2 separate regions of the Homo sapiens genome follow, and region 2 is linked to region 1. Evidence: fine-mapped expression QTL. Tissue or cell type: whole blood. Region 1 holds a variant in brackets; the other region holds the start of a gene. All regions are shown on one strand. Distances are between the middles of the regions.

What was found. PIP is the estimated chance that this variant, and not a neighbour inherited with it, causes the effect.
Region 2: NCKAP1 starts here. The variant in region 1 is fine-mapped to the expression of NCKAP1 in whole blood (TOPMed, PIP above 0.99).

What each region holds. Positions count from the first base shown.
Region 1 is chr2:183,078,994-183,086,703 of GRCh38, reverse strand. DUSP19 (dual specificity phosphatase 19) reads right to left here. Exons shown (of 4, transcript NM_080876.4): 1 at 7,545-7,710; 2 at 3,150-3,196. Among named protein-coding and RNA genes, the nearest start is that of DUSP19, 4.1 kb to the right of the region's middle. The variant A/C (reference allele first, on the strand shown) is at 4,213.
Region 2 is chr2:183,035,278-183,041,532 of GRCh38, reverse strand. It overlaps NCKAP1 (NCK associated protein 1), which reads left to right and starts at 3,076. Exons shown (of 31, transcript NM_013436.5): 1 at 3,076-3,541. The coding sequence starts at 3,434. RefSeq lists silencers at 2,503-3,154, 2,887-3,476, 3,537-3,656.

The DNA.
Region 1 (7,710 bases):
CTACAGGCGTGTACCACCACACCCAGCTAATTTTTTTTTTTTTTTTTTTTTTCAGAGAAGAGGGGGGCGGGTCTCACTTTTTTTGCCCAGGCTGGTCTCGAACTCCTGGCCTCAAGTGATGCTCCCACTTCCGCCTCCCACAGTGCTGGCATTACAGGTATAAGCCACCACACCTGGCCTATATATTTTCATAGCCCTGGACTTGCCCTATTATAGCTCATGCCATTTAGAGATTGTTTTTCTCTTTCACTGCACTAGAAACTCCATGAGGGTAGGGACCATGTTTAACTTAGTGTTATAAGCGAATGAGCAGTGAGTTTAGCAGAAAATGCTTAAAATCTTTGTTGAATTAATCTGTGAATATCCATATAAAAACTTAAATAGGAGAAGTGTATCAGTGGTATACAACTTCCCTTTCAAGAATTATTTCCCTATTTTCCTTCATATTCTTTACTTTATAAAATGGTTCTCCAGGATGACTGCACATTAGAGTCACCTGATGAACTCTTAAAAACTATCAATAACACAGGGTCTCATACCCAGAGATTCTGATGAACCAATCTGGCTGAAAAGTAAGGGGAGGTGTGGTTGTAAAATATTTTCTTTCAGATGGTACACTTGAGCAACCTCCTCCTCTTGCATCTATGTATTTGAGCCCCTTTTCCTAGAGTCCACCAACCATGTGGAAGAAAGCCAGGCAGACAGTCCATTAAGATAATCCAAAGGCTGAGAATCACTTGAACCCAGGAGGTAAAGGTTGCAGTGAGCCACGATCATGCCACTGCACTCCAGCCTGAGCAAATGAGCGAGACTCTGCCTCAAAAAAAAAAAAAAAAAAAAAAAAAAAAAAAAAAAACCTAACAACCTTGTCCACATCTGTACTTCCCCTCTGCCTTCTGATTACAATGAAGGATGTGCTCGTGCATCTTCGATAAGGCTCATTCCAGAACCTGTGCTTGGAGTCACAGTGCTTCCTACTTTCTTGGCATCTCCCTATAGTCATAATTCTTGCTTTTCTGTATCTTCAATTCCTTCTTCTACCATCAGCCTTAAAACATGCTCAAAGCTCTCCCCTCCCCCTCCTCACCTATGGCTCCTCTCTCTCTTTTTTTTTTTCCCTTTGCCATCACTTCCTCACTTCTCAATCTTTTGCAATATGGCTTTGGCCTCCAATTCAAATGAAACTGTTTCCACCAAACGCACTAACAACCTCTCTGTCACCAAGTCCCATGGATATAATTTAGTCCTAATCGTACTTAAACTTTTACAGCATCTGACATTGCTGACTCTCTCCTCCTTAAAACACTATTCTCTTTAGTTTCCATGACACCATCTTTTTGTTTTACCTTCTTTGGGCCTCTTTTAGATCCTCCTTTCCCACTGCGGACTCTTCTTTGTTTGATCATTCCATATAGGGTGATATTCCTCAATTTATCAGTTCTGTGATAAGATTCTGTCATAGGCCCTCTTCTCTCTTACTTTACACTTTTCCCCAGGCAGCTTCATCTATTCTAATGGTTTCAGTAACTACTTAAAAGCTGAAGATTCCTAAATCTATATATTCACCTCTATTCTGAACTTCAGACCCTACATATCCACCCACCTAGATGATCCACATCACCCAAAACCTAACATGTTCAGAACTGAGCACACTGTTTCTCCTTCAAAGCCTGTTCCTTCTACGTTGCTTTCAATCTCATGGAACGATAACTTTACTTAGTTACCAAAGAAAGCTAGACATCAGCCTTGACTCCTCCTTCTCCCTTAGCCCCACTCCCTATCCTGCCTCATAAGTAATCAAATTTTAAGAATTCTACCCTCTAAAAAACCCCTCACATCTATCTAATTCTATCTCCACTAAATCTTAATCTCAGCCATTATCATCTTTTCCTTAGATTACTGCAATAGCTTTATAACCAGTTTCCCCCATCTCTAACTTGAGCAACCCTCCAATCGATTTTCCACACTGCTTCTAATGAGAAATCTTTCTGAACTGCAAATTTGACCTTGTTACATCTCTGGGTAACTTCTCAGTGGCTTTCCATAGTCTTTTGGATCAAGTCCACACAACTAACTTTGGCTTACATGGCCTTTTGTGATCTGGCTCATGCTTACCTCTCTCTCTGGCCTTGTCTCTTGGTGCCCTTCTTTCTCACACTCTCTATTCCAGGGTCACTGAACTTTTCTGTCCCTGAAAGCATCCACCTTTCTCTTGCTTCTGGGCCTTCACACATATCATTTATTCTGTATGAACACTTTACTTTCTTTTTTTTTTTTGAGATAGAGTCTTGCTTTGTCGCCCAGTCTGGAGTACAGTAGCAAAATCATAGCACACTGTAACCTCGAACTCCTGGGGTCAACCAATCCTCCTGCCTTGGCCTCCCAAAGCCTTGGGATTACAGGCTGTCTACTCCTTTCCTAGCCTCTTCAGAGAAATACTTCAATATCACTTCCTCCAGGAAGTCTCCCCTGACTCACTTATCCCCCCAAAAACAAACCAAACCAAACATGGGTTAAGAGCATCATCTCCTATGCACTTCTACAGCACCCTGCACTTCCCCATCAAAGCACACAAACGCTGTTCGGTAGCTGCTTGTCTCTCTTCTCTGTCTGCCCCTTAGGTCATACGCTTCAAGTGAACAAGAATCTCTTGCACTCCTTCACCTACAGCAATTCCATGACCTGAAACAGTACTCAAAAAAATGGTAGAGGGCTAAAAATCCTTTTGAGTAAATATGTAATAAATCACATCAGTTGTATGGAGTAGAGTGGCTGGAAATGGCATTACAGAAGACGTGGTATGTGAGTTGGGACTTAAGGTATGGACAGGTCTTGGACAAGCAGAGATGAGGGAAAGTCTATCCCACACAGAGGAACTACATAAACACAGGCAAGAAAGACATGCCTCCAAGGTCAGGTTCATGAGGGTACATGAAGGAGATCAAGAAGAATGTAAAACTGGAAAGACAGATTACAGATCCACATATTTGAATTATGTGCCAATTATTTTTCAACTCTATTGAAATGATAGCCAAAATGTTACCAAATAAACTCCATAATATACCAAAGATGGACCAATACAGTTTTTCCTAAATAAAACAATTAAAATATTCTGTGTATATGGTGCCAGACTTAAAGCATTTTTTTACCTTATTCTTTTTCAGTGTATCCAAATCATGAGCAGCATCTTGTGACCCTAGAAGAAATAAATGATACCACCTTGAACACAAATATAATCATCTTGAACTTTTATATAAATTTCTACAGCAATTCTGTTATTAAAAAAAAAAGACCAACAACTTGGAAGGACCTTAGTCCAACTTTCTGAAGGGCAATTTGATAACAGTCATCCTACATAAACTCCTGGACTCTGAAATCCTACTTCTAAAAATTTGTCCTAAAAGTTATAGATGTTGCAAAGATTAGCTGTAAGGATGTTCACCATAGTATTGTTTGTAATATAAACAAAACAAAAACAAAAGAACACTAAAAGCCCAATAATAGCTGTTGCATTAAATAAAAAATGGTATAATTGTGTAGTGAAATACATACAGCCATTACCACCATTAGAAATAAGAAATGTAAGCCTGAACAACATTGTGAGACCCTGTCTATAGAAAAAAAATTTTTTTTAATTAGCCAGGCATGGTAGTGCATGCTTGTATTCCCAGGTATTCAGAAGGCTAAGGCAGGAGGATCCCTTGAACCTAGGAATTCGGGGTTACAGTAAGCTATGGTTATGCCACTGCACTCCAGCCTCGGTGACACAGCCAGAAGAAAGAAAACAAAAGAAAAGAAAAGATAAGAAAAGAAAAGACAAGACAAGACAAGAGAAGAGAGAGGGAGGGAGGGAGGGAGGGAGGGAGGAAGGAAGGAACGAACGAACGAACGAACAAAAGGGAAGGGAAAGAGAGGGAGAGAGAGAGAAAGAGAGAAAGAAGAAATGTGGTAAAATATGTATAGCATGGAAACATGTTCTTGGCCAGGAGTGGTGGCTCCTGTCTGTAATCCCAGCACTTTGGGAGGCTGAGGTGGGTGGATCACTTGAGGTCAGGAGTTTGAGACAAGCCTGGCCAACATGGCACAACCCCATCTCTACTAAAAATACAAAAATTAGCTGGGCATGGTGGTGCATGCCTGTAATCCCAGCTACTCAGGAGGCTGAGGCACGAGACTTGCTTAAACCTGGGAGGCAGAGGTTGCAGTGAGCCA[A/C]GATCGTGCCACTGCACTCCAGCCTAGGTGACAGAGTGAGACTCCGTCTCAAAAAAAAAAAAAAAAAAAAAAGAAAAATGTTCTCAATGTATCTGGTTATAAAAGCAGGTTACAAAATACCATCATCCATTTTTATAACAACAAAAAATATGTATATGCTTAAAAAATGGAAAGGAGGTATACATAGAACAAAATGTTAACAATGGGGTTGCAGGTGATTTTTTTTTCTTCTTTATGCTCATTCTGACTTTTTACAATAAACATCTCTTTATTTTGTAACTTAAAAAAGGATATTACAAAAACCACACACCCACAAGATGACTTTGTGCCAGCTGGTTTGGGAACACCCAGTAGCTTAGAGCAAATGCTGTTGGTCTGCAGGATCCCACCCACACTCCATGTATCACTAGGGCTGTGCCCTTCTACAATCTCTTTCTGTCACAGCCGGCTTCCCAGATCTCCCACACTTGGAAACTGGCTCTAGTTAATAAGCAAGTTCATATGGAGAATAACTAGTCAAAATAAAGTGAGTTTCACAGTTTAAAGATTTCAAGTATTTTACTTTCCTGAATTAGGTTCTATTTCATAAACTTTTTTTTTTTTTAAGTTACCCATCTGGGAATTCAGCCAACTTTTATTATGTGATTTTAGGTGGCTGAAAGGCCAGCAAGTATGCTGTTTGGCCAATATCCTCTTGATAATACCAAGCTTACAGGTTCGCTACTGAGCTCACATTCAGCTTTATTATACTTAAAAGTTAGCCTATCAAAATATTAACATTTGTTAAAGCTGAATGGTATATACATAATTGTCTATTAGTTTCTGTAATTTTCTATAAATTTGAAATACTTCATAATTTTTTTTAAAATTCTGTTTTCTAATGTAGAAAGCCCTAACCAACTCCAGAGGAAAAAATAGGTTCAAATAATTGAAATTTGGTGGTTTAGTCAGGCGTGGTGGCTCATGCCTGTAATCCCAGAAATTTGGGAGGCCAAGGCGGGCAGACTGCTCAAGCCCAGGAGTTCAAGACCAGCTTGGGCAACATGGTAAAACCGCATCTCTACAAAAAGTACAAAAAAATTAGCCAGGCATGGTGGTGTGCACCTGTATTCCCAGCTATTCAGAGGCTGAGGTGGGACGATCGCTGGAGCCTGGAAGGCAGAGGTTGCAGTGAGCCAAGATCGTGCCACTGCACTCCACCCTGGATTTATTTTGAGACCCTATCTCAAAATAAATAAATAAATAATAAATAATTATCTGTCTATATATAATGTTCAAAGCCTAGGACAAAAATGCTGTCTAAAATCTTTTCTCCATTTTTAAATGGTTCGAGGGCCTATGTAATATTTTTTAAATGCAGTCACTTTTTAGAGTTTACGAACTAAAAAAGATTACATTTTTACAACTCTTCATTTTCTTTATTCATCACCCAAACCAAAAGTTGTTTGGCATGCGATGCTGGGAGGAAGCTGTGTCGCTTTGAGGAGGTGAAAGAAGCTCTTAGAACCAACCTGCAAACAACCCCAGTCTCCCAGACGTAAACTAAGTCTGGTCAGAAACAACTCTTTCAACATTCATGTAGAAGAACTGCGGGTGGAACCACCCATGGATCCTTTAGGAATGAGGCACTTGTAATTAGGCAGAAAAAGGTGAGCTTTCAGAAGGGAGGAGGTTGCTCCTGATGAAAGTATCCCATTCCAGAGAAGACCTTATTAGGGCTAGTTTCAGAAGTTCCTCCCAGGACTCTCCCACTATCCTGGGGAGGTTTCCAACCCCAATCTCAGAACACTACCTTGATCAGTTCACTTTGGGTAAGTCCACAAATAATAGTAATAAGCAAAGTTCATGAAGACCCTAAATTGGTGAATGATATATGAAAATTCTACCATAATTATTCCAAGCCATGATTACTACAGTGGAAGCCAAAATAACTGAAAAATGTGCCAGGACGTATTTTCTTTCCTAGATATGGTGAGCAGGGCCTAGGTGAACTTTTCAGATTACCTAAATAACTCACTTTTTCACTGTAAATGTGACAAGAATATGGTACAGTTTTTCACGGGACTGTAGAAACTAGTTAGAGACATTTATTTGGTGAATTTAAAGACAGCCTATGTAACAATTCATATAATATTTAATAACTTATATGTACACTGCAATTGATTTGCATCAAAAACCTTTTACAACAACCTCAGGAGGATCCTATGACATAAGCAGATACTGTTACTTCATCTTTACAAATGGCTTTTTGGAGGACCAGAAAGGATAAATGGCTTGCACCAGCTAATCTAGTAAATTAGAGGCGGAGCAGGATTGAAAACTTGGTCTATGTGAGGCAGCCTAGTATAACAATGGACAGCAGGAGTCCATCAGACTTGGGCTTGATGCATACGTCTGTTATTTACCAGGTGTGTTACCTTGTGTAAATTACTTCACCAATTTTAAATCCTGGTTTCTATTTGTAAAACAAAGCTGATAATCCCTACTTCACAGGATTCCTCAAAGGAGTAAGACACTAGGTGAACAGCACCTGGGCTATTTCTCAGTCTTCTCTCTATTCAAGAATGCCTTAGCTGCATAGTGATAAGTCATTTAGTCTTTCCAAGTCTTAATTTCTCTATTCATAAATAGAAATAATTCAGACGTACTTGAAAACATTCTTGACTATTTTTTTAAGAACACCATACCATATTCTTGCCAAATTAACAAGTTTGCACTTTTATAACCTTGCTTCATTTGCTATTTGTGAACTATGCTTGTATAGGGGCTCAGTATTTCCATAATACGAAATAAATCATAAGATCTTAAGATCTCCTTCTCTTAAACACTCCAAAAACAGACACCATGAACAGACGTGGCCACAGGAGGCATGTATTCCGCACGGTCTGTAAGAGCTGCGCAGGCCAGCAAGCACAGGACTATTTCGAGTATTAACTTTTCTATAACTTTAACCATTGTCACTTGTAGTTCTGCCTGATACAAACATTCTTTTTTCATTCCTTTTTTTTCAAGCTGTATTTTTTATAAGCCAAGAAAACACAACATCAATGTGTTATTCTCCAGAGAAGTTAGAGAAACGGGAAGAAAGCTTTTCTAAAATTCAAATATGCAGTGCCAAGTGCTACGAGAATAGCATCTATGCTTCTTATGGGTACACTGTGAGGCAGAAACGGCTCTAGCTGGCTAATGGAAGTTCCATATCCAAAAAAGGAAACAGTTCAGCTTTTCGGCAGGATAGCTGATAATACAGACTATTACGCATAAAGGGGGAAAATGAGAACGTAATCTGGCTAAAAGGACTCAATGATCTAGTGGCAAGTCGATATACTCACCTAGGAGCAACCATGGCTTAATAACGCCAACTTGCAGGTCCGAGCTAAGGTCCTGCACATAACCACAACCACCCCCACTGCTCGGCTCTACTTCTTCCACAACATGAATTCTGGCATCTTTCCATGTTTCTATAATTTTCTTTCCAGTTAGCGTTGTCACCCTGGT
Region 2 (6,255 bases), 44 kb after region 1:
ATAAAAAAAAAAACAAATAAAAAAGCTAGAAGTTTATTTCTCTTTCGTACAAAACCAGGTCTAGACAGGCCAAGTTTGACATGGCTGTTGTGTTCTAAAAAGCCCACATACACCTTCCATTTTTATGTTTTGTCATCCTTACTGAGTGGCTGTTGTCTTCCTGGTTCAAGATAGTGGTCATTGCATCCTTGTTGGGTGTGGCAGAATGAAGGAAGTGAGGAAGAACTGGCAAATGGAGAGCAGCAGCAGTCCCTTTAGGAAGGTTCTTGACAGCTTATATCTTACTGGTCAGAACATAAGCTGCAAGGGAGGCTGGATGATGGATGTACTTTTCCTTTTTTTTTTTTTTTTTTTTTTTTGAGACAGAGTCTCACTCTGTCACCCAGGCTGGAGTGCAGTGGTGCAATCACGGGGCTCACTGCAACCTCCTCCTCCCGGGTTCAAGTGATTGTCCTGCTTCAGCCTCCCAAGTAGCTGGGATTACAGGCACGCATCACCATGCCCGGCTAATTTCTGTATTTTTAGTAGAGATGGGTTTCACCATGTTGACCAGGCTGGTCTCAAACTCCTGACCTCAAGTGAGCCATCCACCTTGGCTTCCCAAAGTGCTGGGATTACAGGAGTGAGCCAGCGTGCCTGGCCTCAATTTCTCTCTTTCTTTCTTTCATCTCTCCTTCCTTCCTTTCCTTCCTCTCTCCCTCCCTTCCTTCTTTCTTTCCTTTCTCCCCTCCCTTCCCCTCCTCCCTCTCCTCCTCCTTCCCTCCCTCCCTCCTTTGCTTGCTTGCTTCCTTCCTTCCTTCCTTCCTCTCTCTCTCTTTCTTTCTTTCTTTTTAAGACAGGGTCTTGCTCTGTCACTCAGACTGGAGTACAGGGGTGTGATCACAGCTCACTGCAGCCTCTGCCTTCCGGGCTCAAGTGATCCTCCCACCTCAACCTCCAGAGTAGTTGGGACCACAGGCACGCCACCACCCCCAGCTAATTTTTAAATTTTTGTAGATATGGGGGTCTCCCTATGTTGCCAAGGCTTGTCTTGAACTTCAGGACTCAAACAATCCTCTTGCCTTGGCCTCCCAAAGTGTGGGGGTTACAGGTGTGATGGAGCTTGAGCCTAGCAGTTGAAGACCAGCCTGGACAACATAGGGAGACCCTGTCTCTACAAAAAAGTTAAAAAGTTTAAGAAAAATTCCCGTACACTTGTTCTTTTTAATGCAAAATGTAGAGAAAGACAAAAATTGTAATTCATCTACATCTAATCTCTTTTACGCAAATATATACATTTCATTACAGTCTAGGGCCAGTATGTCTATGAATTAGTGACAATAAATATTGAATAATGAGACTACTATCTACAGCGTTCTCCTATTGGGTACTTCCTGAGTTATAAGCAGCTACTAGTATTCAAGTTTATATGGCAACATGATAGTTTTTCTTGGGGAGTAAGAGTTGTGTTCAAATTTATAATACAGTGCCATTTTCTTGTTCTCCCTATACAGCAGTTTTTAAAAACTAGAAAATGAGACAATCTTTTATTGGTAGCACTCTGTAATTCTGCGTCTAGACTTAGTTATTTGTAGTCTCCCTAAAGGAGCACATATTTCCCCAATGTTCAACATTTTTAAATTTTCTTATCTGGCTACCCCAAACCCCTCCTCGCAGCCTCCCCTTCTCAGGTCTGCCCTTACTATTCCAGGCCCCACAACCTTGCCTCCTCTAAATTAAAATGTTAACTATCAGGCTGAGAAGTAACCAGATAAATTAAATTCCTTGACCAGTTAATGACTAGTAATAGCTCGACAGATGATCTCTCTGAAGTGTTTGTATTCTTAAGACTCTCTAGGTACAAAGCATTCATTCAAGGTACTGCAGCTTTGTATATAGAATTTCAGGCACACTGGCAGGTATGATTATGACTTCTTTTGGTGGGAACAGGACTCTTTTAAATGCCCCTTAGATTAAATCCATTCAGTCCACTCCTTCTTTCTTGTTGGAATATTAAAATGAAGATTTCTTTACGAATAGTAGATATAGTAGCTTTAAAAAATATTTTAAAGCTATTCATTACAATTTCCTTTTCTTAAAGAGTTTTGATAAATCCAGTGATGGCTTATTACTCTTAGAATGTCTTATTGAATGTGGCGGGACATTTTGTTACTGACTTAAAATTAATGAATATAATATAAAAAATTAACATATCGAGAAAAGGCAAAGCCAAAAATATTAGAGGCCTGAGTCCTCTTGGCTGAAGTTTCTCACCTCAATTACGTAAGTCCTCAGTTAGTTCACTTTTGGAATCATGTCTAATACATTTGACAAGGGAGTAGCCTTGGAGTGTCGCTAAGAAGAAATTGATCAGGAAAAATGAGATGGCAAAGAAGAATGTTTCCAAGAAGAAGTGGGATTTAGGGTGGAGGCTGTAAAAAAATGGGAGCGGTTCCTTTAGGCATTGAACAAACATTTATTTTTTGCCTTCCACATGCCAGGACCTACTGCGTCTCCTCCGGATGGGTGCTCCTCGCCGACAAAGTCTAGATTGTGATTATCTCAAGGACTTGAGTTACCCTCACTTCCGACCTCCTCTCTCACAAACTGGTTCCAGGCGGGGAGACTGAGGATGGGCTGGGGAGGCTGGCAGAGGCGATCCCCACCTCGCGGAGCACAACATCTGCTGTGTTCTGCGGCGAGCGCCTGTCAAGCAGTGGGAGGAAAAAGCGCTTGGAGCCACCAGCCCACTCTTAAGCGAAACTCGCCTGGAAAACACCCCGCCTCCCAGCAGAGTTTCTGCCGGTTTCTTTAGAAGGGTGGTGCGGAAAAGCAACTTTTGGGAACTTGAAGGAGTGGGGTGTGGGGCGAAGTGGAAAGAGCACACAACGCGACCCCACTCAGTCCCCGCTTGGGACTCCCATCCCGGCATCAGGCGTAGTGGGCGGTCCGGGCCAGGGCCAGGGCCAGAGCGGCGGCGGCGAGGCCATGCCGAGGGCCCGTCGGCCGCAGTTCCCCGTCCGGCCTCGCGGGGGCGCCGGCGCTGCCGATCAGGTGACCGAGGGCCCGTCCGGGGCTGCGGGAAGCGGCCTCGTTCTCAGCCGCCGGAGACGCCGCCGCCGCCGCCGCCGCCGCCACACCTAGTGGAGCAGCCGGGGAAGGCGGCTCGTTGGGGGCTGGGGCGGAGAGCGCCGGGGGTGGGGGCGGAAGGGCGGCGGGCGGAAGGCAGGAGGCTGCCGGGGCGCGGGCTGCTGCGGGAGAAGGGGCTCCGAGGAGTCCGCCGCGGCTCGCTCTGTCGCCGGCGCGGGATTGGGGCGCGAGGGCCATGGGCGCGCTCTCCTAAGGCGGAGGTCGCGGGCGGGAGGGGAGGAGGCCCGAGAGAGGCTGCTGCGAAGGCCGCGGGCCCGTGACTGGGCGCGAGGCGGCCGGCGGCGGCGGCGGCACCAGCACCACCATGTCGCGCTCAGTGCTGCAGCCCAGTCAGCAGAAGCTGGCGGAGAAGCTCACCATCCTCAACGACCGGGGCGTCGGCATGCTCACCCGCCTCTACAACATCAAGAAGGTGCGCACGGGCCGGGGAGGCCGCGGCGGAGGCGGGCGGGCCCGGGAGGGATGAAGGGCAAGGGAGGCCGTGGGGTGGGGGCGGCAGGAGGCGCCGGGTGTAGAAATCTCGGCGTCGCCGCCCGAGGCCCGGCCCGGGGTCGCCTGGATGCGCCGCGGCCTAATGCGGAGTCCCGGGCGCCTCTCCCTGTGGTTCGCCGGCCGGCCGAAGGCAGAGAAGCCATTTCCCGGCTCCCGGCGGCGGGATCGGGCGCTGGGCCTCGCACGGGGTGGGGGCGCCGCTGGGAGCCGGGAGCTGTCCCCTCCTCGGCGCCCCCGCCCCCATGATGGGGCCCATAGGAAAGGGAGGGTGGTGGGTGGGCGAAATTCTAGGTGGGTAGGAAAACTTGAGTGTTCCATATTCTTACGGAGATGGCAGCAGTGAACAGGGATTACACCCCACATCCCCATTTTTTGGTGTGGGAATGTGGGTAGAGAAGGGCTGATTGGATGAATCCCGTATCCCCTCCACTTTGCCACTTTATTTTAGATTGCTAAATAAAAAGCCATTGAGAGTGTGTTGACGATTTGGGATTATTTCATTTTGAAGGTGGAGAGGAGGGGGAAGTGAGGGTGGAACCAATTTTCTGAAATACTTCTAGGCTGTGAGTCACTAGAACTGGAATAACAACCTTCTACTCTTTCCCCTGTACTCCTCCTCATGTTAGATTTTCCAATACCATTTCTTAAAGTTCGGTGTCTGTACAAAATAAAAACCGTAAAAATGTTGCAATTGCTGCTGATTTATAGCATAGTCTGATAATTTGAGCAACTATAGCTAATAGGCCCATTTAAAGGCTTTTACATGTCCTCAGTACAGTAAGGAGTGGAAGACCACTGGAAGTTTAGAAAAGTCCATGTAAAGATAGAACAAATAATTACATTCATTATCGTAGGACAAAACAACAAAATCTCTCCCCTTAAGGCAAGGTTGGTAAGTTTTAAACAATTTGATAAAGAGAAAAAGAGATATTTGGAAAATTTAGATCCATCGAGTTTCCAATGTGTCTTTGATGTCATACCTTCATAACTATTTGTTGGCTTTTTAATATATCGTGAATGTTACCGTTTAGTTTAATCATAGCAATAGATTGTAGGTTGAGAGGGCTTCTGAAGAAAGGTTTTTTTTTTTTTCTTTGGAAATTCATTTCCAAGCGTTTGAGTGTAAAATTGATTTATTTTTTACAATTTGATGTAGACACTAATTCTAAAGAGTGTCCTGGTTTAATGATGATAAATTTTGGATAAGGACAAAGTCTGGTTGCTCACCTAATTGCAAGGCTTTATTACTCTAAACCCAGTGCTATCTGGAGAGTAACTGCAACATGCTTACTCAGTTTGTTACCTTTTATGTGGCAGGAGCTCAGTGTCATGACAAAGAAGCCCCTCTGCATTTACCAAGGAGCCTAGGTTATAAATTTATATAGGTTAGGAATAATTCAGTTTTAAATAGTATTACTTAGAGGTTGCATTGACCTGAACTGTTCGGGGAGATTGTGCTGCTTAAAAAACTTGGAAATTGATTCCTATATGAATTTTGTCCAAAAATGAACAAGTCAAATATTATAAAAGTTACTAGACCTGTGGTATTGTGGTTTAAAGGAAATGGTTATGATGGTTTCTAAAAGAGGAAGTGAGAGTAACATCAAAAGTGATTTGGGTATTTGGGCAAAATACCTTTTCTAAGCATTTATTAAACATTTTTGTAGGATAAATGCAATCAAACTTTAATATCCCACCTTCATAAATAAGATTAAATGAAATTCTGGGCATTTGAACTCTAATAATTCCAGTTCATTGCCTTTTCTCAAAAGCACTGTTTTTTTCACTTCCTGTTTTGGGAAGCTTCAGCCTCTTGTATTATTGAACTTGTGAAAGTTAAAATGCATTGAATGTGATCATTATTATATCCATGTCAAATATTTTGATTTATTGAAACGTCATATTTTAGCACTTGCCTTATATTTTTAGTTTCTTAAGAAATACATTGCTTACCTTGCTTGAGTGTGAATTTTCTCTGGGCAGGGACAGTGTAATTTTTGAAATACTAGAGTATTTAGGGCCTTATCTGATACTCGAGGCCTTCAGTTAGGCCAGGTTGAAATGAATGAATTACTTCCCTCCTCTCTCTCAAAACCTGTGTGCTCTAGTTTTAATAATAATACCCTTGGGTTTGCTCCCTTTGTGTAATTTTGCATGTAAATGAATCAGATAAGATTTTGGATCTTTCAGCCTATAGAATTGTCTGTGAGTCTGGCATATCTTCCCAGCTGGCTAGGAATTGAAACATTTGTTCAAATATCTTGCCAAAGAAGTGAGTAAGATCTGTTCACCATGTGTTTATTAGGTTCATGCTGTCTGCATTCTTACTGCATTATAAACCACATACTCTTTTCAATCTCAACCTCTTCTAGTCTTAAAAAAAAAACCTTCCACCTCATAATACATGTTTGCCAATCAATTATCACATTTTCATTAATGCATGTGCATTAGATTGTCTACCAGATCTAATTACTCTGTTTCAATTGGAAGTATACAGTGGAAATGATATTTTAGTGAACATATACAATGAAAAATAGTTAAGTAAAATAACTTATTATTGTCAGTAATATGCTTTGGCGCTTATTAGGGAAGTTGGAGCATGATTACTGAAGAATGTTTTTTTTTTTTAATTTC